7 separate regions of the Homo sapiens genome follow, and all the other regions are reported to be linked to region 1. Evidence: microRNA targets listed by miRTarBase, many of them from high-throughput screens and not tested one by one. Region 1 holds a microRNA gene; each other region holds the end of a gene's coding sequence.

Region 1 (4,068 bases):
AGGTTTTTGTTTCATAAGCAAGACCTGGTGAATCCTATAGATGAATTATTTTACTCTTAGTGGAGAATATCTACATATAGATATGTTATATTAATCATATTTAGAGGCTATTTCTTATAGATTTCTCTATTTACTGACTTCCCAGTTTAGTTTTTCTTCAAAGCAGTACCCTGCCTAGTTGCATGCACTCTTCATTTTTTTTTAGAGTCTTTTTTCTTCTTCCATGACTTTTCTATAGTCTTTTCCTGGTTACTTTCTTCTCTGCTTTCCTCGGTGTTCTTTTCGTGTATGATTTTATTCTTTCCACCAGCCCCATTTTTCTATAGCTAAAATTAAAAGCACATGGAATTTTAGGATTGTAAGGACTCTTGGAGACTAATCAAAATACTTTCATATTTCAATCTGTATTTAATATCCTGGAAAAATGGTTGTTCAGATGGAGAATCTGAAACTCAAAGTGACTTATTTAAATATCAGAGGTAGCAGAAGTAATATTTAAACTCATTTCAAAGCCCATTACTCTTGTTTTTATAACATCATGTGAGTGAGTGTTTGAATAATAGAAAGAAAAGGGAATGGGTCTAATTAAACAAATGGAAAGGGATAAGAATGGAATTAGCTGGAGAACCCAGTGGAAGTAGATAAGAATGGAATTACCAGGGAAAGGCCAAGTTTGAAGAGAAACAATCCCAGGACTGGTAGGAGTAAGGATTTTACCAAAGAGATCAGAATATTGGATCTTATGACAAGTTTGATGAAGATAAATTAGAGGAACAAAAACACAGATGACATTGGGAGTTATCTAGAAACTCATACTAAAATAGGGTTCAAAGGAAGTCCTGAATAGGTCGCTGCTTTTTCGCTTCTTTAATTGGAGAAATGGACACACTTCATGCTTTCTATTGAAAGATTAAAAAAAAAAGCCACTGCAAAAATTCTCTGCAAGCAGATAGAAATGTCCTATTGTGTTCTTTCACCCCAAATCTCACAGGAGTGGCTTAGAGCCCCTTGAGTGCTAGGGGATTGAAGGTTGCTGAATTACATAGATCTGTGGCCCAGGGCAGGTGTCCCCTCCCCTTTGCCTCTTTTTCCAAGCCTCTGATGTCTTACCCATGTACATGTAAAGCAGGGGTAAGATTGGCTGTCAAATAAGTCATGGTTCAGTTGGGTTTTTGATAACATGCTTACGCTGGAGGTGAATGACTGACTGAGACTCCATTTAGTTGTTTTCCAGGAACAGGTAAATACAGAGCTTCTAGGTTGGTCATTGAGTTTATCTTTTCAGTAATCTGTGCTTTGATGAGCAGAATATTTAAAGGTTGGAGACTGCCATGAAGCTCTGCAGAAGAAAGATCTGGAAGTGGGAGACACTTTTACTATATATAGTGGCTCCCACTTCCAGATCTTTCTCTCTGTGTAAATATAGTATTTAGAGAAATCCAACTATCAGGACTCAGTTTTTCTAGCAGTCTCTCTCCTTGGGTATAAGTACCTATGAAGATTTTTAAGGCTTTTCTAGTTTATGTAGACCTGAATAAGGAAAGACAAGTACAAAATAAGTAATTAGATTTTATTATTTTTAATGTTTCAATTTTTGTTGAGAAAAACATTCCCAATAACAAATATACATTTGTGTTTTGACATTTGTAGGTTCAGCTTTTCAACATTTCAAATATTTCAGGGCACTCTCTGCAGTGTTTTAGGGTGAAGGGAAGCAACAGGGCCTTCTTAAGTGGTTTTTATGCTGAAAAACAAAGAATGTCATTTTCCAGTGACACAGATTAGTCTTTGAATCAGAGATAGATAATGGAGAAGAAACAAGGTAAATGTATCTTTCTACCTCATTTTAGGTTATCAAGTTTGTTCCAGTTTAGATATCAAAAGTTATGTCAGCCATTAAGTAGATTTTCAGTTAATCATTAAGGACAGTTTGTGAGGACGAATTATACTCAGGGTATGCCAATTATATTGGCTGTCACTACTTATTATGGAACTAAGAGTCAGTCTTCATTGGATGTTATAGGTTGGGGAGGTAGAGTCAAAAATAGGTAACTAAAATCTTTTTTAAAAACAGAGGGCATATTTTAATTATACCAAGAAGCATGATTTAATATACAAAGACTGATTTTTCCCAGATTTTGGTTTTTGTTTTCATTTTTTGGAGTGAGCACCAAGATATGAACTAGCAGATTTTCTTTTTAAATATATGAATTTGCTTATTTTTGTTGTATCTTTTTTTCTCTAAAATCTGTTCAGCAAACTGACTATTGAAAATTCACAGTCTACAAAACTTAAGGAAGACTTTAATCTTGCTACCAATGTAAAATGGTCTCTTGTGAAGTTGATTTTCTCAGTTGGAATCTAGTTCTGTATAGTATTTACTTTTCATGTTTAGCAGTGGTGTAATTACCATTATTTCATGTTGGTAATATAAAGTTGGTCAGATAAAAACATTTTATGGAAATATGAGTAGTTGATTTAACGTTTTTTTTTTTTTACTTTAGTAAATAACAAATGATTGGTAAATATTTTGAGGGTGTGAGTGCCAACAAAAGGAATGGACTGGAGAATACATAGTGATAGGAACATTATATTAGAAAAAACTTTTCCACAATACAGAATATATAAAATCTGGTAAAGGTTTATTTGGATAAGTGTACTTACTGTGACTTTTAAAATTATTCTATTGTCACTTAAAAAACTCATGCTTAAATTTATATTTAATGGATCCAGTTACTTACTATAGTAATCAAGGAATCTCTCTGATACTGTTCAGTTCCAAAACTGTGCCACATAGCATATAGGGTTTTTTTTGCACGTATTATTTTGATATCATGTAGTTTTTAGGAGAGAGCTTTTTCTCAGTTTCTCTTCTTGGTTCTTTAATTACACCAAAATAATATTAGAAATTGTGAAAATTTTGGGGGCATGGTGGTACATGCCTGTAGTTCCGGCTACCAAGGAGGCTGATGCAGGAGGATTGCTTGAGCCCAAGAGTTTGAGACCAGTGTGGGCAACATAGCGAGACCTTATCTCTAATTTTATTTTTTATTTATTTTTTTGAGATGGAGTCTCGCTCTGTCACCCAGGCTGGAGTGCAGTGGCACGGTCATGGCTCACTGCAACCTCCGCCTCCTGGGTTCATGCCATTCTCCTGCCTCAGCCTCCTGAGTAGCTGGGACTACAGGTGCCCACCACCATGCCCGGCTAATTTATTTTATTTATTTATTTATTTATTTATTTTGTATTTTTAGTAGAGATGGGGTTTCACCTTGTTAGTCAGGACAGTCTCGATCTCCTGACCTCGTAATCCACCCTCCTCGGCCTCCCAAAATGCTGGGATTACAGGCATGAGCCACCATGCCCGGCCTATCTCTAATTTTAAAAAATAATTGTAGAAATTTAGAAATGTAAATTCTCTTTCTCAGAGTCTGTATTATTAAGGCATGCCAGTGTGTTTTCTAAATTATTTCATTAAAAGTATATTTTACACTCTTCATCTCAATGAAGAATGCAGGTTTTACCCCAAGTAAACAACCAGTGTATGGAAGCAGAGAATCTTACTAAGCATATGGTAGAATTTTAATTTCAGAATTTTTAAATTGCAATTTTTAAACATATTGTTAAAAGATTTTTTATCACATTTGAAAATTTTAAATTTTGGAAGATTTTGTATTGAGTTGTTTAAATAATCGTTTTGAAGTTCTTGCATCACTATAAGATACTGCAGGTTAGAAAACATACTTGTGTGCAGCCTAGTGTACCCAGAATACAGTCTTGCCTATAAAAAGAGTTTTAAAAGTTTTCAATGTGAATAAATAAGCAGAAAAATGAATTTTTATGTAATGAAATGTTACAAGTAAGATAATATGCATAATATATCTTATAATAAAATCTAATGCATTTCCAAAATATGGCTTAAATGTATATTTTCTTTTAATATTTAGAATGCATAAATTCATGTGAGTTATCTTGAGAAAATATGTCTTAAATAAGACAATAAATCAGAGGTATGTAGTAAACAGGAAAGAAGGTTACACTATATCCTCCAAGTGGAGTTTAGATTAA
Region 2 (4,068 bases), not on the chromosome of region 1:
TGCCTTTCAGTCATTCTTTCAAGGAAAATGATGACCCACTAAAAAAAAAATGTTTAACTTCACTCACAACTCATGCAATTACATAATGGCTTTTCCACAGGACAACTGCCTTTCCATCAGTATGCACCAGAAATGCTGCCTATGTTCTTACACTGACTATTAAACAGATGTGTGCTTGAGGTTTAAAATTTAGTAAACTAATGATTTTATTGCTTCATCAAGGTCACTGGCTTTTGCTTTTTTTTTTTTTTTTTTTTTTACTGTAAGCTTATGGCAGTGAAGAACATGACCTACCTGTACAGCTTGGTGTCACCACCTTGATTTGTGCTCAGGCACTAACAGTTTCACGTGACCACCATAGATTTCTGTACCAATATGTAAATAATACAGTGAAAAAGGCAAATAACATCTTAGTATTAGTACAAAAATAGCTTGACTTCATAGGCCCCTTGAAGGGTCCCAGGGACCCCCAGGAATCCATGGACCACACCTTGAAAACCACCACATGACAGGGATATCAACATAAGGAATGATGGTGAGCATTAAACATATCTCTACTCACAGAACTAAGACTAACAAGGGAGCAAGTAGTCTATGCAATGGTACAGGATCAACTAATATAGACATAGTTCAACTAGAAAGCGGGGGAGAACATAGGTAAAAAGGGAGAACACAGGTAATAGGGAGAATGTAGGTAAAAAGAATTTCAACCGTTTTCAGTAGCCATTTTGGTGGTTGTGTATGAGTGTTATTATCCTTAGACTGCTGTCTATGTTAACTCAGGAAAAGCAAATAAGTATGGACATTCTAATTGTGTCTGTCCCTGTGTCCTTGAAAACCAGAGTTCTTGGTATAAAAGAAAGGAGATGCAGAAGTAATATAGAGAAGACTGATTTTTTTTTAAGATGGAGTATTGCTCTGTCACCAGGCCGCAGTGCAGTGGTACAATCTTGGCTCACTGTAACCTCCACCTCCCAAGTTCAAGCGCTTCTCTTGCCTCAGCCTCCCGAGTAGCTGGGACTACAGGCGCGTGCCACCACACCCAGCTAATTTTTGTATTTTTAGTAGAGACGGGGTTTCACCGTGTTGCCCAGGATGGTCTCAATCTCTTGACCTCGTGATTCGCCCGCCTCGGCCTCTCAAAGTGCTGGGATTACAGGCGTGAGCCACCGTGCCTGGATGACTGATTTTTTTAAATGTATACATGTATAAATGTTTTATTGCCATTGAACAGGCTGGACACAATGACCATTCCTATCTATTTAGGCTCCCCCACTGCCCCTCTCCCTGCTTTCTTTCCATGTCCTGACCGAAAAATCACAGAATGCCTCTGTGACCCAGCCAGCTGCAGGTTTTTCCCAGCAGGCTCGAACCCAAGCCAAGGCCTTGAACACTCCCAGGCACTGATAAACGTATCTAGGTTGTTTCTCTAAACACTGAAACTTTGTCCCAGCCCTGAGCCAGGTTCCTTAAACCTTCATATAAGCTCCATACCCTGACCCCCTCGCTGCAGACATACCTAGGCAGAACATCCCTTTTCTCTTGCTGTCTGCAAGGACTCCTGAAGCCCTCTGTAGGTAAATTCCCTAAACAAATGTTTTGGACTGATCACCCTGGCATTTAGTGCTTCTTTCTTTGAATCCTAACCCACACCATCTCAGAATGGTTTCAGGAACTTCCTTGTGGTAACTCCCTTGACGCCACTTTTGAGGTGACTCCAGCAGCGGGTTCAGTGGGACAAAACACCCTAACGCTGGATTATAGTCTTAAATGTCATTTCCCACTAAACTAAACCAGGGATTTCTGGAAAAATGGCTACCTCCAGGTCTGGCCAAGAAATGAACAAGATGAACCAGAAACATGTTGTCATCCCAGATAACAAAGAAATTATCAAAAGAAATTTGCGTCAAAAGAACTCAGTTTCATTTTTAGCCACTTGAAGAAGTTTTCACTCACCAAAAATGTAGGATATAAGCTTTAACAAGCATAAAAATTGCAATAGAGTAAAACCTATCAAACATTTAAATCCTTCTGTTTATAATTATTTAAAGAATGAAAAGTAAAACCTGATTGGCCATCTGTAGGTTTTATTAATAGTAGGAAACCAATTTGCTAACTTGAAAACTGGTAAATAAAAGGAGAGTCAAACACTGATCCTGCCTTTCCACTGTACCACTAAGTAGCCCACTAGTAAGTGGAGGGAAGTGTCTCTTCACTAGTAAATGAAGGGAACTGTCTCTTTGTAGCATTAATAAAGCATATAAATGAAGAAAAAATGACAGAATACCACCATTTAGCAATCCCCAATAAATTAACAGACCTAAGCAATTAGTATCAATGGTTGCTAACATCACAAAAAGAAACAGCTGGAAATTATGTCTCTCATGGTGAAAGGCCACAACACCACGTATAGATTTTCCAAAGGAAAAGATTGAACCAGAGTCTGATCCAGCCTCTGCATCCAGATGCCAATTTGCGGGAGGCACAGAAGGCAGAGGATGTGTTACACTGCACCATGTGTACGCAGCCAGCAAAATCCAGAGTGTGGGAAACTCTACAGGTCAAATGGATTGAGCTTTTCAACAGATTAATCATAAGGGGGAAAAAAAGGCTGATGGGGGAGAAACCAGTGAAGTATGAGAGACGTAAAAGACAACTAAGCTGTGGCGTCCAGGAACACATACCTGGGGGACTAGACTACAAAGACATGAAAGAGGTTACAATAAAATCAGGATATGGTCACTTTCGAGGGGAAGGAGAGGCTTTGATTGGCCTGACGTACAGAGACTTCCGCTGGAGCTGGCAAAGTCCTGTTCCTTGACTTGATTACAGGGGTTTTTCTTAAATAATTCACTAAAATGTACATTTTTTGTATCTCCATTTTATTTGACAATAAAAGGTTTTTAAAAACAGTGAAAAGGAAACAGTGACTACCTGAGCATTTGTCTTCTGAAGACTGTGGAGACTGCAGTTGGAAGACAGAAAGCTTTGGAGATCATGACTTATAGGAGTAGGGCTGGACCACAGAAAAGTAAATGATTTGGGGCTGGAAGGAGTAAGGTCTCAGGGGAGTTTCTGGACAATGCCCTTGGCAATGGGGATTAATGATGTACACGTAGAAGGGAGAAGGGCAGATGGGTGGGAGATGCATGATCTCAGAACACAGAGCTCCAGAATCAGTTCGGGCTCCTCCAAGGATCAGGGAAGAGAGTTATTCCCAGAACATTGACCTCATGAATGTCCTTTACCTCACCCAGGGCCCAGACTACTCATCACTACTTCAGGCTCCAGAGAGAGAAGCTTCAGTGAGGACCTTAGCATGACTGAGGGAGCAGAACAGCTCTTGAGACCTGGAGGCACAGTGATGAAGGTCTCAGGAGGCAGCCTCACCACCCCCCACAGCCGTTCCAGAGACTCAGGGGACAGTCCCATCCAGACAGCAGCAACCTTACTCCTCCCTACCCCCATGTCATCTCCCTCTGGCCAAAGAACCGGGAGAATGATCTGCCACTCAAAGACAAGGAAAAAGAGACATTACCTCATTACCAGACATCTGCGTCCTCACATATCCTGGAAAGAAATCGAGAAAAGAATGGATTGCCCCAATTAGGACCCAATATGATTATCCCGAGGGAAGAACAAATGGCTGGCAAGGTCAGCACTCTCTCTGCTTATCCCATTTCTAGCTTCAGAAAAAAATTATCCCGGTGATCCCTGAGAGGCACAATCAGCTTTCCTTGCCTCAGATCATTGACGTTAGGGAAGGTGGGAGTGGGGAAGGTCTGGGACAGGTGGCAGGGCACTCCTCACAGGCTCATTACCTTTCTGAGCCCTTAGCTGGATGACGATTCCCACCAGAAGGAAGATTAGCCCAAGTAGGAAGGCTGCAATGCCACTCAGCATCTTTCTCCAAGAATATTCAGACTGAGCTCCTATGGGAAACAGGTCTTTAAATTAGTAAAAATATCCCAATATTTAAAGCACTTTCTTGGAATCCCAGAATCTGTACTAGACACCAAATCCAATGCTAGCTAGAGAAAAATAAATAAATTTAGAAAAGGTTCTTCG
Region 3 (4,068 bases), not on the chromosome of region 1:
CAGGCATTCCATATGTCCTGCCTGGTGGTGGGGGAGTCTGTGGGACGGCTCAGGATGAGGGCCTGCCACTGCAGGGGCTGTCCTCAGGCACGGGGGAGGCTACATGGCTCACAGCTTAGAGCAGGGTACTGCCATCACCCCTCCCAGCTAATGCACACCATCAGCTTCTACTTCATCAAGACAGAGATCAAAAGCCCCTAATGCACGGGCTCCACACACCACCCTCTACTTCTCAACCCCTTGCTGCCTGTGCTCCTTGACTTCTCTGCCTTGTTTCTGGGGTGTTAACACCTGTAGAGCTTCCCTCCTATTTCTCTGACTACAGCCTCCATTTCTTTTGCTGGGCTTTTTCTCCCTGGCCTTGGTTTTGGTTTTATTTTCACCCTCTCTGGATCTGCAGCCATCACTTTTATGTTCATGTGAGAATCTGGTCCACCTGAGCCAAGTCCGAATCTCCCATCTGCAATTGCCTGCTTGAGATTTCTATCTGGATGTCCCTTCATAACCCCACAATTCACGTGTCAAAAGCCTGAAGTCAAGATCTCTCCCCACAACTGCATTTCATGTTGTAGCTTCTTTGGCAGGGGCATTACCATTTTCCTACCTTCCCTGGTTAATAAACTTTTTCCATTCTATCATCATATTCATTCCTTAAGTTCCAGTAACTTCTCCATTGATTTGTTCCCTTCCTCTCCATCCCCCCTAGCATTATGCCATCCATAGTTTTATGGCAAACAAACTCTGTAATCAGTCTCTTTTCATCCGCTTTGCTCCAGACCAGTATACTCCAACCACTGCTTCCATTACACTCCAACTCAAAGCCCACGAGTGTCTCTGTTTTCTATTACATTACTAGGGAACAGCTCTGGCTGACCTAAGACCCTCTGTAGTCTGACTAGTTGCCAGCATGCAGTGCCTGCTCTTGCCAGCCCATCTCTTCACTGTCACATAAATATGCCGAGCTTGGCCTCTCCTCTCTGCCTTTGTAGGTTATTCATCAGAAATGTTTTCGCATGTCTATCTGACTCCAGATTCCTGCTATCTATACGTGCAACAATGGCACCTTTCTAAAAGACTTTCAAATGATTACTTCATGTCCAGGCCTTTCTCATTTTTTTCCTGATGGCTCAATGGACAGAACATGAGGTGGATTGTCAGGGAGTCCCGCATCTTATATTTCAGTTCCATCTGGTGCTGCAGGGGCTGCATTCTCCCATGCTCCTTCTGTTCCTCTAAAAAATAAGCTACTGGCAAACAGAGCAGTGAACCCCAGTCCACAGCAATGCTTCTTGTCCCCCAAGCGAGATCTGCTCTGGGGCTAATTCATTAGGTTTAGCTTTTGTCTCACTTGATCGGAACTTGGGTGGAGATTCCAAGGGCTGGAAGGAAAGGTGGGGAGCTGTGCGGTTCTAAAGGGTGGGAACCACTCCTCAAAAGCGCAACTCTGAGAACACACTGAGAGAAAACAAGCTCAATCTTGGTAGTAGTACGGTCACCATTTACAGATTTCTTTTTACAGCTGCAAAAATATTCCATCAGGTTATCAGCCTCTGACTTCATTTCACTTTGGTAAGTAAGTAAAAATAAAGCTACTGTGAAATGCCATCAGCAATGTGAGCTCACGGCGGGTAGTCCACGTTTGTGAAAACAGACCCTATAGACTGCTCTGCATTTTAGTTTTCATGGAGGCTATTCTAAAGGAAACTTGTTATTTCATATATTTCATATATGGTTATACTTACATGCCAGCTAAACTACACATGCACACAGATTTTAAATAGCATCAGAAAATAAGGTTTTTGTTTACCTTAATACCATTTACCAGTTGCCTTAATGAATTCTGTAAAAATACCCTTGCAGGCTTCTGCTCAGTTACCCAAGAGGGCAACACAGCTGAAAAACCCAGCAGCTGAGGAAGGACCCAAAGAGACTCAGTATGACCCAAAGACTTACAGACACAGCCAAACAATCCCAAGGAGTACACAATATAAATGCTTTATTGCTAGCACAGAGGTTTCTTTTTAAGTAAATTAAAAGAAATAAATCTTCATTTTCACATTTTTTGTTGCAGTCCAAAGGTAACTAGTTGGTTAGTGGCTATGTCCACTTGGACACATGCTACAGGAGGGCAGCATTCACATGGAAGCACTCAGAAATACGGCATCTGTCAGGGCTCACGGCACTGGGCTGCTGAATGCACTGTCGTTTGTAAATAACAGCAAGTGGAGACTTTAAAACATCATGGATAGATAAGAGTTATAAATAGAAAACTGGTACGGTTAAGAAGCAGAAGATCGTTAAATACAGAAGGCTATATATATGTTGCCCATATTCCACATACTCTGGGTTATGTTTGGTACTTTTAAATAAATGATCTGCATTTAGGTTAGAGACTGGATTGGATTTGACAGCTGGAAAGATGGAAGAAGGGATGGAAGAAGGAAAGGAAGCTAACACTTCCCACATCAAACTGGTGGAGTCACTGGAAAGCAGAAGAGGAGTATGTGGATGGGAAGAAAGGGAGGCGGGCCTGCTTTACTCCCTGCAAGCTGTAGGCCATGGCCTGCCCAGTGAGGGGCAAGAATGGGGTGTGACAGAGGAGCTCAGTGGAGCACGGCAGTCCTGGCACAATGGAACTTGGCAAATGGAAAAGGAAACCCCTAGGCTTGGCCAGATTTTCCAAGGTCACTGCCAATAGATACAGGGCACATTATGATAGATGTACAGTGTGACAGACCAAAATCACACCTGCAGCAGTTATTGGTGTAGAGGTTCAGAAGGTACAGATTCCAACTACAGAAATAATTCATTTAATAATAATTGTTGCCCAATATTAGAAACTGAATGATGTCTGCAAGGCATCCAGCATTATCAAATTCTTGGGCCTACTCGGATTGTTTTTTGGTTGGTTCTAAGAAAAACTTTGGAAAAGATCTTATCTAGCTATGAAAAACAACCCACTCCTTGCCTTATTCCAGAATAACTGAGAAGGAATCTAATACACACACACCCCAAAACTGCAGCAAGCTCAGAAGCGGTGAACTGCACATGATGACTTCCAGTCTCTATTGTCCCAATCTTTTTTCATTCATGTTATTTATGGGTAAAAGAAAACCAGATTGGGTCAGGAATATCCCAGGTTCTTACTACATCTGTAGTGTACCAGCTCCTGGCATTTTCATTCTGGTCTGACTCTAGCTAAAACCATTTCATGTTTTGCTTTGAAGAAATGGATAACATGAAATGATAATTTGGCTTTACAACCTTGAAAAATTGTTCCCGGCCCAAACATCTGCCCCAGAATGAGCTCAGCTGACATCTCCTTGGAAGAGAGGGAGGGGTGGGTGAGCGAGGAGGGCCTGGAAGGAGGAAAATGAAGACAGGAGAAAGGTCACCTTTCCTTGAGAGGAAAGTTCTTTGTGACAAAGACATGAAATAATACAGCTCCCTTATTTCATCCTGTGCTCCAGAAGGAGATACTGGATGTGTCTGCTAGCTCCTCCTCCTCCCTTTATCCCACTTTCCCCAATATTTGGTATGATTAAGGTGGCCCCTTACAGAGTGCCAAGAAACTGTACCCAGCTGGTTTGCTTTAGTTGTGCAGTGACCTGCCTGGCCTACATGTTATCTTTTCAATCTTTAAGTAAGGACCGTGGCTCAACTTTGTATTCCTGAGAGCTGGGCCCTACAGAGAAAGCAGAGAGGGACAGACGTGCAGGCTGGGCTTCATCCTCCTTCTTGGCCTTCTTAGGAGTTCTTCTGGGGGATCTTTACTGTCACCGTCTTAACTTCTGAGTACTCCCGCAAGCCAAATTCTCCCCTGAAACACAGAAATGGGCCGGGTCAGATACCAGAAGTCCAGGGAGCTGCATGTGAGTGCAGCGGGAGTCCTGGGGAGGTGCAGTTTATCACCTGCGAACAGCAAGTCCTGGGATGTTCATGTAAAAATTCCTCACGTATGCGCAGCCCAGCCTTCCTCTGAGGGTCAGAGAAACTGTCATCTCATGAGTAGTTTTTAAAGAAGTTTTTTTAAAACTTTAAAGTTTTTTAAAGTAGTTTTAAAGTTAA
Region 4 (4,068 bases), not on the chromosome of region 1:
ATGCAGAGTGCTATAGACCCGAGGAGTGTCATTTTGTCATCATTGCCCATATTCCAAATCTTGACATGTTAATGTTTGAGATCACATATATGTACTGTCTTCTCATCTCTAAGGCTAAACCATGACGTTTTCTTTTTTCCCCAGTCCCTCAGTGACCCAGTTCTTATCTCTAAATATTCGTCCTTTCAAAAATAGCATTCTTCCTGCTATCCTTTACCCAAAGCATCTCCTTTCCCAGCTCAGCCCAGGTTCAAATACTCTCAGCCTTCTCACTTCAGGGCCTCTGCTCACGTTCTTTCCCTGCCATGTCATTCATTCCCCCTCGAAAGCTTTCCCTGTCCCACTTTCTCTTCTCACCGTAGCACTTAGCCTGGGGAGGGATGCTGCCTCTCAGCTTTTTCATATCCTTGGAGCCTGGCACACTCCAAATACTTGTTGTTTGGTGTGGACTCTGTTCTTTTTCACAGGCTGGTATGAGGGGGAACGACTACGAGATGGAGAAAGAGGCTGGTTTCCTATGGAATGTGCCAAGGAGATAACATGTCAAGCTACAATTGATAAGAATGTGGAGAGAATGGGACGCTTGCTAGGACTGGAGACCAACGTGTAGTCTCTCAGATGGTCTTTTGTTACTGCAAGATTTGCACGACACTTACCGGGCTGGTTGGTTCTGGGCTAGTTTTATTGTTAATTTTGTCACAGCCTATTTAATTAAAAGAACGAAAACACTTGCCTTTAAGCTTGCCAGGTTGTTCTGCTCTCTCATGAGAAGAGCTTGGATACAGTGAGTTTGCACAGCTCAGTTTTTACCTAACCACACACTTGCAGACCTCCTGAGGTACACAGAATAGCTGAGCAGTTCACTTCAGGGATCAGGTCATCTCTGCTCCTCCTAGTTTCACCATGTTCTGGCAATAAAAAACACATATTATATCCTGGTTTTCTCTATCCTTGCATTACTAAGGTGACTGTCTCTCTTTATACATCCTTGTATGGTTCTCCCAGTATTAGCAAGATTGTATATCTGTAAAGAATGTCCAGTTTTGTAAATATTTCCCTGCCTTTTTTTTTCTTTTTTTACATCTGATTTTAATGCTTCGTTAACTTCAAAAGGAACTGGTAGAGTTCAGAAGGTGAGCTGTTGTTTTTCTAAACCTCTTCCCAGGAAGGGGACATTGACACTTGAATTTTTGTCACCTTTTTCCTCATTAGAAGGAAAGTAGAAAGCCTTACTTTAGGATTTTTAAAAAAAAATCCATCTCACCCCATATTGTTCTTAAATAAGTATAGACTAATTAACCTAAGCTACCTTTAACAACGTAGAATTTAGATGGGTTCATATATGTGAGAAAAACCTGAATATAGGACAGGGGTCCTACTTTTTTCCCCACCTCTGTCGCCCAGGCTAGAGTATAGTGGTGTGATCTTGGCCCACTGCAACCTCTGCTTCCTAGGTTCAAGTGATTCTCCTGCCTCAGCCTCCCAAGTAGCTGGGATTGTAAGAGTATGCCACCACGCCCAGCTACTTTTTGTATTTTTAGTAGAGACAGGGTTTCATCATGTTGGCCAGGATGGTCTCTTAACTCCTGCCCTCAAGTGATCCACCAGAGAGGAGATCCTCGGCCTCCCCAAGTGCTGGGATTATAGGCATGAGCCACCGTGCCCAGCCTACTTTCTAATTAATTAAAAAAAAAAAAAAAAAAAAAAAAAAACCTTCCCAAATGAGCTGATAAAAAACTGACGTGAGGCTGCTTTGCCTTCAATAATACCTAGTTTTCAGCTGTTCCAACTCGTTTCCAAATAGAAATTAGCTGGAACACACTACAGTAATCTCAAGGAAGGGAAAATTAGGCCTTAAAAGATACCAAGAAGTCAGCATGGTACCCAATTGAAACCTTTTGACCTTAGTGGGAATTCATTCTATTTGCACTAAAAGCCTTAACTTGCTGTATTCAGAGTCCCTCTTAACTGTGAGTTTCTATAGAACTTTACTTTTTCCACTAGTGCACAGAGAGAGAAAGGTTATCTTAATAGTCGGTTTCATGGAGATGAAGGATGGGAGATTAAGAGGGGGGAAATGATTTTTACTGGCAGCTATATTCCCTCTCTGTTCTATTTGCTTTAACAAAGGGATAAAACCTGGCAAAGTGTACATTATTGGAGGACTCAAATCTGTATGTGACATGTCCCAACTACTGTCCGCTAACTAGTTATCCAAATTGTAAAGCTACAGAAGCCCAGTTGAGGGGTAAGTGTGCCTGGCTCACACAGCCTGCACCCTGTCACCTCGGCAATGAGCCAGTGTGGGGCACTGGGGACTTCTAACCCTTGGATTGCTCTTTTTGACCTGTGCATACCTTCTAATTGTAAAATATATTTCAGACCGTGAGTACCTTGAGATCTGAGCAACTGTGTTAATGAAGTAATAGCAATGGTCCACAGTGAAAGATGTGTTGGGGTTTGCAAAACAAGCATTCCGTCACCTCTTTAATAATGTCACAGACTTTTTAAAAGAGAGGCTATCAAGTTGTAATATAATCTGTCATGTTTTATTTAGGAAGGAAGGTAAATTTGTGCTTGCACGGGGATCATTTTGTATTATTTTTGCTAATACCCAGTTGAAGCTAAAAAGCAACTATTTGAATCCTGTGAATTAATTTATAAGAATGTTAAACAGCTTTGGAAATACATGCATCTTATGAATCATAGCCTTATTTAGCAAGATCAATGTTAAAGTGTTGTTATATGGCAAGTATTTAACACATTCACAGTGTTTGTTTGATTTCAACTGTGAATTGTCTTAAGTTTTTTCAAACCTAGTTGTTTCTATGGACACCTGCTCTGAATTGTACATTGACTTCATTACTAAAGAACAAAAATGTTCATTTTTGTCCCAGTAAATTGAGACTGCTTGTACACTTTCAGAAAAATATGTGAATTTATAAAGATTTTGTAGATACTTGTCCTTTTGTGCTGGTGTGATTTATTTTACTCTAGGTTGTTTTCAGTTAAGTATACAGTTTCCTGGGTTTTTGGCCAAATCAGAGCTCTATTTAAAAGGTATCTGTAGCTAACATTTCAGAGGACTAATCTTTTCTCTTTGGGTACATGCTGGCATCAGCTGCCCTAGAAGACTAGAACATTTTTAGGAGATGGGTCATGCTGTTTCTTCTCGTAGTTGGCATAAACCTGCAGGACTAAATCGCTTATCTTACATAGTGCACAGTTCCCTTATCCCCTGGAGCATATTCTACCATTCATTTGGTCACCTCGTATCTGAACCCTTGTGTTTGTGAAATTTTACCACCTTGTGAACCTTGGTAGAAGTAAAAAAATGACTTCCTTGACATTAGTTTTTTTTTTGCTGCATAACAAATTGCCACACACTTAGTGGCATAAAACAATACCCATTTAATATCTCACAGTTCTGTAGTCAGAAGTCTAGAATAGCATGGGTGGGTTCTCTGCTTAGAGTTTCACAAGGCTCTAAGTGTTGGCTGGCTGCTTTCTTACCTGGAGCTTGGTGTCTTCTTTCAAGCTCATTTCTGTTATTGGCAGGATTCACGTCCTTGCTGTTGCTGAGCTGAGGTCCTTGTTTGCTTGCTGGCTGTGAGCTGGGGGCTGCTCACAGCTTCTAGAGGCCCTTCATATCCTCGCCACAGGCTCCTTCCATCTTCAAAGCAGCAATGGCATGTTAACTCCTTTTCTCACTTGGAATCTGTTTGACTCCCTCCTAGGCTACCAGCGGGAGAAAACTCTGCTTTTAAATAACTTCTTACATAATTAGGTTAGACTCATGAGATAAGTCCCTTATGACACTAACTCAAAATCAAATGATTTGGGACCTTAATTACATCTGCTAAATTCCTTTGCCATGCAATATAAAATAATTATGGATGTAGTATCAGGGAGGGATATTGGGGGACATCTTAGATTTCTGCCTATAACACCTTCTATAAAACCTTAAGATGTTTGAGGCTTAGAGTTTCCAGCATCTCTTGCAGCTAAGATACACCTAGCTATGTGATAGGAAACAGCAATCAGCTACCTCTATCTTAGAATACACCA
Region 5 (4,068 bases), not on the chromosome of region 1:
TTTCAGTAGTAGGGAAATTTGCTGGCGGCAATATACACCACTAGAAATGGTGCCTGCCTTTATATTGCTCATGCTAATCTGTAAAGCTGGGGTTAAACTGAAGTCACTATACTGGAAGCTGCTCCCCTTTAAGCAATCATTATCAAGAACGTATATCTGGTTAGACTGTTTAGTTTGCCAGGGCTGCCACAACAAATTGCCATGGACCGGGAAGACTAAACAGAAATGTATTGTTTCCCAGTTCTGGAGGCTGGAAGTCTGAGATCAAAGCAATGGCAGGACTGTTCAGAGGGCTGTGAGGGAAGGACCTGTTCCAGGCCTCTTTCCTTGGGCTTGGAAATGTCTTCTCCCTGTTTTCACATCATCTTCCCTCTGTATAAGGCTTTGTCCAAATTTTCTTTTTCTAAGAACACCAGTCATATTGGGTTAGGTCCTAACTTAAGGACTTCATTTTAACTTAATTCCTTCTTTAAAAACCGTATCTCCAACTACAATCACATTTTGAGATTACTGGAGGTTAGGACTTCACCATATGAATCTGGTGGTGTTGGCAGGGGGCGGTGTGTTCACCTGTAACAGACCATAATCACTTGTGTATATGGAGATATGTCATTCCTTAGTGTGTGCCTCCAAGTTTGGTGATCAGATCATCAAGTTTACATACTTGATGAGGTGCTGACAGCCTCTGGCATGTTTATGCTTCTTGAGACACAGGTAAAGGAGTGTTTACTAGAAAGCGGGGACACAGGTCAAGCGTGAAAAGGCTGACGAAGACTCTACTTCCTGTTACCTCTTTGCCCTCTGAGAATCTCAGCACAACAAAAATGCCAGGATTATGAGCCACTGACCTTTTTGAGAAGGAAATGCCAAGCATACAGTGAGCTGCAAGAATACTCTGAACTAGTTTATAGGCTTTGGCCTTGAAAACTCAAATTATTCCAGTTTTATTTATATTACTAAAATCTAGAGCTTCTTGGATATTCTATATGTCAATTTTTTTTAGTGTAGAAACCTATGTTAAAATGAAAAATGTAGACTAATGGGAAACTAAAGAATATCAGCTACTGTTTATGTTGAGCACTGTGGGAGCCACTGACACGTATGAACTTAACATCTAAACAGTATAATGAAGCGGCGCTCTTAATACTCTCCATTTACAGTTAAGGGAAGAGGCATAGAGAGCTTACATAACTTGGCCAAGGTTACAAACCTTCATCACACAGCAAAGCCCACACTAGAGAACATTCTGCAGGGCTCCAGAGCCTACATACACATCCTGCCTCTCACCGTGACCATTTACTCAACAGCAGCAAGGCCACCCAAAATGGGCAGAAAAGGCTGAAAACATTCATGTCAAAGGGCACTTACTTATTTATTCATCTTGTGAAAATGACTTAGAATTTAAAATTAAGAGGTAAAAAAATGGAGAGACAGTTGTAAATACTAAGCACTAACAGCTACAACTTCACTAAAAAGGTTTCCAAGCTTCCTCTGCTGTTTGTGTTCCTCTGACACTAGGCGTAACTATCTTGGGCATCATTTCAGTCTTGGGAATGAAGGAAGTGAACCCAGTGTGTGCTACTGAGATAAAGGAAGAAAGGGAGCTTAGAGTCCCAGTACCAGTGGTTTCCTGGGTATGGGGGAACCAGCCAGCTGGATGCCTTTGGCAAAATGCTGAGTTTGAAGCTGCCCTAGGAACCAGAGCTGCCCTGAGGGAGGCGTCACGACCCAGTGTCAGCAGCCAACCCTAACCATCCGCAACACATCCCCCAACCCTCCACTGCAGACCTGCCACATTTCTCCAAGGAGGTAACAGAGTAAAGGCATACCTTAGGCAGGAACAGGGCAGAAGAGGGTTGGAAGCACAGGAAGCAGTTTGTCTTAAGTACTAACAGCAGAAACAATAAGAATATGATCTCAAAAGCTAAAATACTCTAGAAATGCTCTCTTCTTCTAACCTCAGAAAGATTCAAATTGTACTTGACTTTCCCTAGAAGACTCACTCATCTCCTTCCTCCATGAAATGAGACTACCAGAGGAATCCTGTATTTTAAAAAAGTTTAATTTTAATCCTTCCTAGAGGAATACAGATTTGAATGAAATACATTCATTCCATAAATACATTAGCAGCAAAACCTTCCCACCAGAGTCCTCTACTCCAGCCCAGAGGTTGTGCCTTGAGCAGGAGAGCATGTTCCATCAATCCTGTCAACTTAAGGGTGGGTCTGCTTCTGAGAAACGCTGGATGTGCATGGGAGACACAATGACCAGGTGCATGGGTGACTTAACTAAGCTGGGACCCTGAAAACAGGCCCATGTGGTCACTATTCAGCCTTCTTTACCTTCCAAAAATCCTTTGGCATCTTCCATGCTTCTCTGATGAGGTTCCTCAGCACTGAGACAACTGGGAAGACCTAACTTTGCACATGCATTAAATAATGTTATTTTGAGTTGGCAATGTTTTAACACTTTTCATAAGGTAAATGAAACATAAAAGATTATTCCCTTCCTTCCCTTCCTCAGGTGAGTCCACATGTACTCATCAGGAGACAATCCAGCAGGCATTATTTGGGCTCTCTGTATCTCCAGGCCCCCTTTGTCTGAATGGCTGGATGTTTACTGGAGACAGGGAGCCATGTCTAAACCTACAAAGATCTCCACGTTACAATAACCAGGTGACTTGCTCAGGCTTCCATCAAAGCTAATTTCTTGGGCAGAGGCCAGGCATCTCTCCTCTTGTTCTCTCCATCACTGACTACTGACTGACTGCTGCTTTTTTATTTGCCCTCCAGGCACCTGCCGAAACTTTGGAAAACAAGATCTACCCTAAACTTCCAAGTGGCCAGGAGCAGTTAAGGCAGGTCCTGCTTTAAACTTACTAGCTGCCAAGTAGCACACTTATGCTGCTGTGTCCCAATCCATTCTGTGGTGAGTATAAGTCACAAGAGTCTGCATAAAACACTATCAGCAATCAGGATGGCTATGGGGCAAGGACCGTTTAGAATGTTACCAAGTCACAGGACCAGCAGGAAAATGGAATAATGGAAGAATGTGAAATAAATCTGATTTGTTTGAGCAGAAGGCAGCTTTGATTCAGGCATAAATGCATCTCCCAGATTATCATGTAAATAAAGACCTCAGAAGTTGACACTTCCCTCCCAGTCCACCACTTAAAACAGGACACATGCTCAGTTTTCCCAATCTGTTTTAAAGTGTTTTCATTAGGATACTCTTCTGTAAGTGCTTTATTCATTCCCAGTCTGTTTTGATTACTGGCTGAAAATAAATCAGGAACCATTTTATATAAAAACCATTATAGTAGATAACTGGTTATGTGTATTTTTCCATTTGCATTTTCATCCAAAATTGCTTGTTTCTTTTCCTTTTATTTATGTGCAGAAAGAGACTCATCCGCTGAATACACAGCACTGTTAATCCTACAGTCTTCTGTCCCCACAGAGTCTGCTAGATCTTCCTCTTCTGAGTCATCCTCTTCTTCCTCCTCTGGTGCTGACGAACTGGAGGTGGGCCCTTTGCAGGTTTTCAGGTGGCGGGTGAGATGGTATTTGGTTAGATAAGCCTTTGTACATTTTTCACAGACATAATCCCGTTTTCCTTCATGAGAATTGAGATGCTTCTTTAAGTGATTTGTTCTCAAGAACAGCTTATCACACTTGGGACACTTGATCTGGCGTTCTCTAAGAGGAACACAAGAAAAAACATTTGATTTGGGGTTACAAATAACAACTGAGGCAACACTTATTCTTCATAGCCGCAGGCCTTTGTCAGAGCAGCTCTATCCTTCTGAATCAGGCTTTTGCATAGGTGATATACAGAAGACTCATAAAACATGTATAGTTTAAAACAGTGTAGGCTCATTTTTCCTGTTTTAGAATACTATGTAAATTCTCAAATTCTATGTAAATTCTATATGTATTTCTTTTGTCTTGCTGCATTCTCTCAGTATGATGCTCATAAAATTCATTCAAGCTGCTGTATCAGTTGTTTGTTCCCTTCCACTGCTGTATACTATTTACAAATATACAAATACACCACAACTTATCTATG
Region 6 (4,068 bases), not on the chromosome of region 1:
CTCCCAGCCAACTGTGTTCCCTATTCCTTAGTATCCGTCAGAAAAGTTCCATGAGTCTCTTCTCTTGCCTGGTGTACTGTAGCACCTCTCCAGTGACCACTAAACCCGCCTATTCAAAACCCAGCTTTTAAGATCTTTCCGTCCTTCAGTATCAATTATATATTTTATTGGCCCTAATTAAACTTTCCCTTTGATCCAGTGTTAAACTACATTGTGAGCCCTTTTTTTTTTTTTCAGACAGGGTCTTGCTCTGTCGCCTGGGCTGGAGTGCCGTGGTGCGACCACAGCTCACTGCAGCCTTGGCTTTGTGAGCTCAAGCAGTCCTCCCCCCTCAGCCTCCTGAAGTAGCTGGGACTACAGGCATGCACCACCACACCTGGCTAACTTTTTATTTTTATTTTGGTAGAGACAGAGTGATGCTATGTCGTCCAGACTGTCTTGAACTTCTGGCCTCAAGCCATCCACCGGCCTTGGCCTCTCAAAGTGCTGGGATTATGGGCATGAGCCACCACACCTGGCCTAGTCATGAGATTTTCTTTGACCTACTGCTGAGCCTCCTTTCCCTGAAGGTTGTGATGTTGGGAGGGGTGAGTCCATCCTCCCTTTCATCTTGCCTCCACCATCGGGACTTGTTTAACCTTCACACTGTTACTTCCCTTTTCTAGAACTCACGTGCTGTGTGTCAGACTGAGCTTTCCCTGATTCATTCTACAATCCAAGACTTGCTGCACTGTCCTGCTGATGTTCACAGCCGTGCCTGGGAAGAAGGCAGCCCCACTCCCAGTACATTTCAGTGGGAGACCTCTGCGTGCATCCATGGAGACGCAATGGGGCGGGGAAGGAACTGTGGGAGTGCACGTTCCAAATCCTGTGTCTCCACGTGTGGATCAGCAGCACCTCGCTTTCTTGTCAGAGACCTCGCTGTTACGGAGCGAGACCTGCTGAGAATTGAGGGGCTGAGGGAACCCCTCCACCTCCTCCCTTCTGCAGCGCCCTGCGCCCCACCCAGCAACAGCGGCCACTTGGCAGTGGGGCTGCTGCAAGCTCAGAGCCGCTGCCACCCTGCATGTGTCCGCTCAGCTCGGTCTTATGCTGTATAGTTACTAAATATGTACAGGAGGGCCATGGCATCTTTCTGAATGGATTTTTCTTAAGAAATGCGCCAGTGTTTATGAGGTTCAAGGTATTTCCCTGTCCTTGCTGTTACCGTCACTCAGCTTTTTCTCGATAGGCTTCATCCTTGTTTTTTTGAAATGGGGGAATTTGCTGTTTACCCTCTGCATTCCTATATGTGACCCTCCCTCCTACTCCTCCAAGGAACAGAATTACCGAGGTTCTGACAAAAGATAAGCCTGTAAACTCATCATCTGTGTTTTGTGGTTGGAGAGAAACTGGTGTTCTGCCCGGCTCTGCTTGGTCACAGACAGCTCCAGCAAGAGCAGTTGTTAAAAGTGCCAAGCGTGTGTATCACTGTGACAAGCCGTTTGCTTACTGCCCTGTTCCCTTGCAGCCAAACCAGCTGATGAAGAACTGCTGCCAGGTGGGTCCTACAGCAGGTCACAAATGACCTAGTTTCATTTTAAGCAGACAGACTCTGTTTGGCCTAGAGGTGTGGAGTGAGAGAACTGTGTTTGTGGGTATGAGTCTGTGTGGCCAACCCCATGACCCCCACCCCTCCAGCCCAACATCTTGTGAGCACATGTGACCTAGGCCCCGGGGGACCTGCCTGCTCCTTTGGCTTGGGCTCTTCGTGTTTCCCACCTGCCCTCGGCACGAGCCCTTGGTGGCATCACAGTTGGCCACTCAGCTGTGCTGAGTAGCTGTGCTACTTGTGCTGGCAGCTGCAAGGATAGGAATAGCTCAGCGCCCGATGAGCTCCCTGAGCAGATGTGAGGCTGGCAACTCCCCTGCCCTCTGTTTGCAGGCACAGGGTCACAGTCCCAAGAAAGACAACTGGAGTCTGATCTCCCAGCCATCTCTGGGGTTACTAGGAGGCAGCTGGATGGCAGATACGAGAGGCCCAAATAGCCAAGCTGTTGCAAGACAGAGTGGCTACAATTGAATTGACACCCTGGGAAGCACGAGGTAACTTGGTAAGGATAATGATGCTGTAGATGTCTGTGTCCTCGGAGGCTGAGCTCCGCTTGGCAGAGAGAGCGTGCTGTGTGAGGTGGAGGGCGGTTTTGCAGACATCTCAGCTTCTTTTCTGAGGAGGAGTTGGTTCTCATCTTAGGCTTCTGCAAGGGCGAGCATGGGATGTCTCCACCACCACCCACTCTTGGAGCTGTGCTGGGTCTTGGCTTGGGGCGCTGAGGGTGGGGCCTGTGTCAGAAGCATTTGGTGAGAGGGGTGGAGGTGGCAGGCAGGGGTTCTCCTCAGGGTTCCCACTGAGGGGTCCCTTCAGCAAAGACCTGGGAGGAGGTGCCGCATCACGTGGATGTTTCTTCCCTAAAGAAAAAGACACAGGAAAGCTGTCTGTCTGTACCCTGCTCTGGATTTATTGTCGTACTTGGACCCAGAAGGGGAAATGATTCCCTCACCCTTTCACTTTCTCTCTGAACCCCTACTAAGTGGTGACTGCAGATTCTGGAAACAATTAGCTGCCCGTGACTCAGCTGCCAGCTTCATTTTCTCTGCCTTTTGGGAGAGGCCCTCTCACCCAGGCCCAAGAGATTTGGAGACAGGAGTCAGGCCAGGTCTGAAGCAGGAGAAGGGAGGCCCCTCCTATCTACCCAGTTGACATTTGGCTTTGGGAAAAGCGCAGCTTGTTCGAGCCACGTGTGCCAAGCAGGCTTTTCCTTCCTCTTGTAAGTAAAGCTCGTGGTTCTGTAGTCCAGTCATCCTAGGAGGGTGATGTTGACTGAGACTTCACGCTCTCCCTTTGTCTCTGGAAACTGCCCCCTCGTTCTGACAGAATCCCCCAGGCAATGGAGGAAGGGTGCCGAGGCGCCTCTAGTCTGTGCCTTTGCCGTTGGAAGCATTTGGTGCTGAGAGGGTTTCCCAGCCACCCGCTCCCTTTCTGGGGCCATGGTGTCCCTGCTGTGTGTCAGTGGCATGTCACTGTGGTTCAGTGAGCACATGGGTGGACGTGCAGAGACTGTCTGCGCAGCCCCCAGCAGACATGCCCCTGGGGTGAGGACACAGGCTCTGCAGGCTATCTCCCCCTCTGGCTCAGTCATCGCCTGCCCACCCTTCACTTCTTAAAGGTGCGCAAGAGAGGAGGGCCGACTGGAGGGTGTCGCCGGAAGGTTTCAGCCTGCCCTTCACAATTCCCCTTGTGCACAGCCCAGTTTCCATCTCTCAGGGCCCACCCAGGAAAATGGATTTCAAGTGGGGGTTTTCATCCAGAGATTTGTTTAACACAAAACAAGAAAAGCTGAGAGGCAAAACAGGGGAGTGAGGGGCAACCCAGAGGTGGGGAACAACAACAGCAAGCCGCCCCCATCCTGAGACTGGCTGGGCACCAGGGGAGGACGCGTCACCAGAGCCTGGGGCCAAGGCCACTGGGGGACCTGCCACACTGTGGACCTGTCTGGTGGGGGCTGGAGCCTCGAGAAGCCATGATTCTTGTCAGAAACATTTCCCCAGGCAGAGAGAGGGGGCCCCAGCCTCTCCCCTCCTCTTGGCCTCCAGAGTCCTGCAGGTGCCTCACAGTAGTGAAACCCAGTTGGAAGCAGCTGCCCTGGGAGCCTGGGACAGGCGACCCACCGGGTCAGTCCCCTGCCACTCAGAGCAGAGCAGGGGGCTGAGGGCAAGCAGGTGGGGCTGTGCGTGGCCTCAGTGCACTCGGTGTCATGTCTGAGCCTGGTGTTTATGCCCCACTGCTGTCCTAAGTCCCTGGCGAGGGGAGGTGGAGGAGCTGCCCCGTGGGTGTTTGGAGATTCTGTTTTACTCTGCCTAGAGAGGAAACGGCTTTGGGGAGGGAGGGGGAAGCCTTTATTCTTTACTGTTGTCCCTGTTTTCCTTTGGGGGAATTTACTCAGTTAGCAGCCCCTCCTCACCATTCCCCCCAGGAAGGCCATGTCCCAGTTTTCTGTCCACCCCTCCTGTTCCTCTGCACTATGTCTC
Region 7 (4,068 bases), not on the chromosome of region 1:
GCTCCCCACCTGAGTGACAGCCAGGACTTCTGTGAGGCTACCGTCAGGTGGGTGCATGGAAGCCAGTGAGGATGTATACTGAAATGTGGGCTTCTCACAAATATTTTAAACCCTGCCAAAGTGCTTTACCACGTCTCTAAGGCCAAGTCCATTTGAGGACAGTAAAGGGACTATCTCATCACTTGTGGGGATAGCTGTTTTGTCAACTGCTATGGCTGATTTCAGCCTGGGAATTCTGAAAGGACTGTGAAGAAAGCTATGCTGCCTGGAATGATCTGGGGTTGAGGGTCCAGGAAGCCTGAGTCAGCTCTGGTGACAAAATAGGTAGTGCGCCCCTGAGCCATCACTCAGGGTATGCTGACTGCACAGTTCAGAGGTGCTATCTCATTACTATGACTTTGCCTTCCATAGGCAGCAGCTTGCAGGCAGCACCACCCTGCCTTTGCCACTGTTTCTAAACAGCACTGAAAGCCAAAAAGTGTCAGTTACATGGATCACAGAACCATGCGGCTTTTAAAAAGGAAATTTAAATAAGATCTCTTTTAGAATTACAAAAATATTCATATGAAACAAACACAATAGTATCTAAGCAAGAAATTCCACAAATTCAGAATACATCTATGTACAATTATGTGGCAATACTATACAGTAGATTGCACATTTCAGGAAAAACACTAGAACGTGAACCACTAACACTGTCCTATGAGGTTTCCTAGTGGATGCTTTGCTGAAATGTACAAGATGACCACCTACTCCTAGACTTTCAAAGACTTTACAGAAATTTTGGTATAACTTTTAAATTCATCCCACCCCCAGTAGGATGATCTGACTATCTACATACAGCAGAAAGGTAAGGCTGGTACTACTGTGTTTTGAGAACATGTAGGAAAGTAAGATGGGGATGTGAGATAATGCCTTTCTAGGAGTTATTTTCTTGGCAGTATGATACTTTACAATATGATATACAACAGTACCACTGCTTAAACCACACACGTGCATAATGAAAATTCAACTGGCGACTTTGACTTGTGCTGTAATGGCTGTGACACTAACCTAAACAACAACAACAACCAGTCTTTAGTCAATATCCACCCTTCCTCATTGCACTCACCATCACACGCACTGAGTCCGGTCAGAAGGGCCTTGTTTACAGAGTATCATCTTTGGTCATGTCACATGAGTGTGAGCACATAGCGCGTCCTCACTCCAACCTGGAACATGTAGTGGAGATCCTGGAGAGCAGCACTCGTGTCACAGGTGCCTGGCTGGTGACCCAAGCCAGGAGAGAGGAGGGTCAAGCGGAATGGTGCAAGTGGAGTGGCTTGCAGAGTTAATGGGTAGAGATGCCTTGTCTTTTTAAAAGTGAAATACTGGTTTATAAAGGTTTAAACACATATGTGAAGTGGGCACTTTAGCAATTCATAGGAGAGTAGGCCAATGAGATAGCATTTTCTTGCACTGCACTGTGTATTTTTGGAGAGCAACCTTCCTGTGGCATGTTTCAAACCCTATTTTAAAAAGCAATAAAGGGACCCGAGAGCTAGAAAACTATCTACACAATTCAGGATTATGGAAATATAAAGTTATTCAACGAGAGTCAATGGTACTAGTGTTCGGTTACCTTCTACAGTCCCACTGATATTTGGTGCTAATTTAATAAGCCATTCAAATCTGAATGAAGAAGATGCTCAGGGTCTAAGTATGGACCTGATAGGCCCAGACAGAAACCCTCAGCAAAAAAACTGTGGCCAAGAACTGTAAGAAAAATACTTTCCCAAGTAAATAGCCTGGCCCTGGAGACAGGCCCCTCTCAATGGAACTGACTCGAGGATTCACAGAACATCTAGTGTGGTAAACTCTTGTAGGGCTTGGTCAAATGACGGTGTTCTGGTTAACAGAGAGTTATTGTATCCCGTGTGTTGGTTTACCAATTTCTGAACACTTAAACTATTCATCACAGACTACACTGAGCACAGTGGCCTCTGCCTTGAACCGTCTGGAAGGCACATGAGCACTGTTAGTGCCTTTGAGTCAGGAAGTGCCAGTGAGCAGAGGGCTCCAGTGTGCTCATGCTGGAAAAGCAGACTTTTGTTACACGTAGTAAAATTTATAAACCACACACACACAAATCAGAAATAAGATCAGCTCTTAGGCAAAACACAAACCCAGAAATAATTCACAAATTCTTTCCAAATAACGGGTCAGGCTGCCTCCGGCATGTCAGTATGGAACATTTACCATTTTGTGACCCAGGGGAACCAACCTGACCTGAGGGTTTACACAAGGGTGAGGTGGAGAGCACAATATTATTATTTAAGAAAAATCTCCATGCTCTTTTGGTAGATTTCAGTTTTTTGTTATTTACATTTTGTCATATACCTCAATGACTAGCTTGAAATAATCCTGTGATAGTTGGCATTTTAGAAAATTCTTAAGAAATGACTTAACACATATGTAATAACTGTTTTCTATATAAAAACACTAATAAAGCCTCCAGTTTTTCAATCTTAGGCTTGACAATATAGTGAGAGCTCTGGTAGAATATCCAGTTACAAGCCTGTAAAATGATAACCAGGGTTAGTGACAGAAGAAAGAGGGCCAGGGCAGGGACGTGGAGGCCCACCTTGTGGCACAATCTGACCTGTACTCATCATGGGAATGTCCTGGGTAGATGACAGACCTTCCCCTTACCTTCCATTCTTCTAACTCGCCAGCTCAGAAAGATATTTCATGCTAAAGCCTTTTCTTGGTTCTTTGAGATGGGTCTGGTTACCTGAAAGTTAGTCAGCAATTCTTTAAATACAGAAATACATGTGGCTCAAGTACTCTAGAAATATTCGAGCTATTAAAAAAGTAGGACCTTGGATACCCATTTCCTTACCCCAGCGTAGGCTGTACAAATCACAATGTCAGAGCATACATACAAATGTCTAATATATACATTAAAATCAATCTAACCAACCCAGAAGGTTGCTAATAGAATTTTCAGTGTTATCAGTATACCTGGACTTCTGACAGTATTTTGTAGGTATCTTCTGTTTATGTTGAAAGATCTTGCATTTAAATTTAAATTTGGAAATATAAAGTACGATTCCAAAAAATCACAAAATAAACTACAACACCAAAAAAACGACACAGGTTTCTGAATAGAACCAAAAGTCTTCAGCCAGAAGCTGTCACTGAACTGGCCAAGGCTCTCCACTGCCTTTGACCTCTGCTGTGTCTTGGGCCTGGCTCCGGCCGTCTCTAGGAAGTACCAAGTGCAGTGACCTCTCACCTCCCTCACATCAGCCTTAGTTTTTGAGTGGAGCTGTCTGCCTTTTATTTAGGGTCTTAAAGTGACCAGAGATTTAAATGTAGTTAATTACCAGAATCCTAACGTCACTGTGCTGCATATATTACTCTTCTTTGTTTTTATCTAAAGGTACTTTTCATTCTTTACTGAAGTCTGGAGAAATAGATGAGTCGTCTTTGACAAGTGCGATTTTCAGAAGGCCCTGTGCTATGTTAAACTGTAGAAATTCACTACTGAACACAATGAAATGTTTTCAAACTTGGGTTCCAGGCTATGACCTTCCACCTATTCTTTCTGTGACAACATATTTTGATTGCAACAATGCAACTATAGATCTATCTCTAAAAACTGACCTTTTAGAATCTTCATGTTCTTAAACCTCATCAACTCTCAGAAAAGAAATCTGTGACGTTAGTCCCATGGCAGCGGTAGGTCCTGTGGGTCTAGAAAGTCAGCAGAGAACATGCTCGGCGCGGTGGTGCTGAGAGGAGTGAGTCCTGAAGAGGAGTTGGGCATGGTAATGTCCAACCACTCCATGTTGTCCAAGTTTGAGTCTGACAGGTCGAGAGACAGACAGGGAGTACCTGCAGCAAACTGGGTCTCGGAAGTCTCCATGGGTGAGTGTGAATGGTCCAGCATACCTGAGTGACTCAGCAGATCATTCTGGAGGTCCTCGATCAGAGAGAAGGGCTCTCTGTCTTCACTGCTGCTTTGTAGTGGAGGAATTTCATTGGCTGAGGGTAAAGTTCCATCCAAGAAAGCTTCTAGTTGGT

What was found. Region 1 holds the annotated microRNA hsa-miR-3156-3p (CUCCCACUUCCAGAUCUUUCU, at 1,390-1,410, shown strand). A microRNA usually pairs through its seed, bases 2 to 8, with sites in the 3' UTR of a target mRNA and lowers its output. Matches are read on the target gene's strand: a 7mer-m8 pairs with bases 2 to 8, a 7mer-A1 pairs with bases 2 to 7 and ends in A, and an 8mer does both.
Region 2: the mRNA of HLA-DOB is a reported target of hsa-miR-3156-3p. The part of its 3' UTR that is shown has no 7-base or 8-base seed match.
Region 3: miRTarBase lists ALDH1A2 as a target of hsa-miR-3156-3p. Seed matches in the 3' UTR shown: 7mer-m8 at 3,515-3,521 and 7mer-A1 at 2,458-2,464.
Region 4: the mRNA of ARHGEF26 is a reported target of hsa-miR-3156-3p. Seed matches in the 3' UTR shown: 8mer at 1,907-1,914.
Region 5: miRTarBase lists PRDM4 as a target of hsa-miR-3156-3p. Seed matches in the 3' UTR shown: 7mer-A1 at 2,138-2,144.
Region 6: the mRNA of MTA3 is a reported target of hsa-miR-3156-3p. Seed matches in the 3' UTR shown: 7mer-m8 at 793-799.
Region 7: miRTarBase lists MRTFB as a target of hsa-miR-3156-3p. Seed matches in the 3' UTR shown: 7mer-m8 at 1,631-1,637.

Annotation. Positions count from the first base shown.
Region 1 is chr10:45,162,673-45,166,740 of GRCh38, forward strand. It overlaps MIR3156-1 (microRNA 3156-1), which reads left to right and starts at 1,342; the gene lies at 1,342-1,416. It also overlaps the pseudogene ANKRD30BP3.
Region 2 is chr6:32,809,902-32,813,969 of GRCh38, forward strand. HLA-DOB (major histocompatibility complex, class II, DO beta) reads right to left here. Exons shown (of 6, transcript NM_002120.4): 4 at 3,822-3,932; 5 at 3,539-3,570; 6 at 2,862-3,350. The coding sequence ends at 3,315. Among named protein-coding and RNA genes, the nearest start is that of HLA-DOB, 5.1 kb to the right of the region's middle.
Region 3 is chr15:57,951,450-57,955,517 of GRCh38, forward strand. ALDH1A2 (aldehyde dehydrogenase 1 family member A2) reads right to left here. Exons shown (of 13, transcript NM_003888.4): 13 at 1,980-3,820. The coding sequence ends at 3,748. Among named protein-coding and RNA genes, the nearest start is that of ALDH1A2-AS1, 110 kb to the right of the region's middle.
Region 4 is chr3:154,254,864-154,258,931 of GRCh38, forward strand. It overlaps ARHGEF26 (Rho guanine nucleotide exchange factor 26), which reads left to right. Exons shown (of 15, transcript NM_015595.4): 15 at 468-2,962. The coding sequence ends at 610. Among named protein-coding and RNA genes, the nearest start is that of DHX36, 68 kb to the right of the region's middle.
Region 5 is chr12:107,730,825-107,734,892 of GRCh38, forward strand. It overlaps PRDM4 (PR/SET domain 4), which reads right to left. Exons shown (of 12, transcript NM_012406.4): 12 at 2,047-3,698. The coding sequence ends at 3,386. Among named protein-coding and RNA genes, the nearest start is that of PRDM4-AS1, 3.7 kb to the right of the region's middle.
Region 6 is chr2:42,752,709-42,756,776 of GRCh38, forward strand. MTA3 (metastasis associated 1 family member 3) reads left to right here. Exons shown (of 17, transcript NM_001330442.2): 17 at 666-4,068. The coding sequence ends at 691. Among named protein-coding and RNA genes, the nearest start is that of OXER1, 9.4 kb to the right of the region's middle. RefSeq lists enhancers at 3,336-3,906, 3,907-4,068.
Region 7 is chr16:14,261,083-14,265,150 of GRCh38, reverse strand. MRTFB (myocardin related transcription factor B) reads right to left here. Exons shown (of 17, transcript NM_001308142.2): 17 at 1-4,068. The coding sequence ends at 3,707. Among named protein-coding and RNA genes, the nearest start is that of TRT-CGT2-1, 23 kb to the left of the region's middle.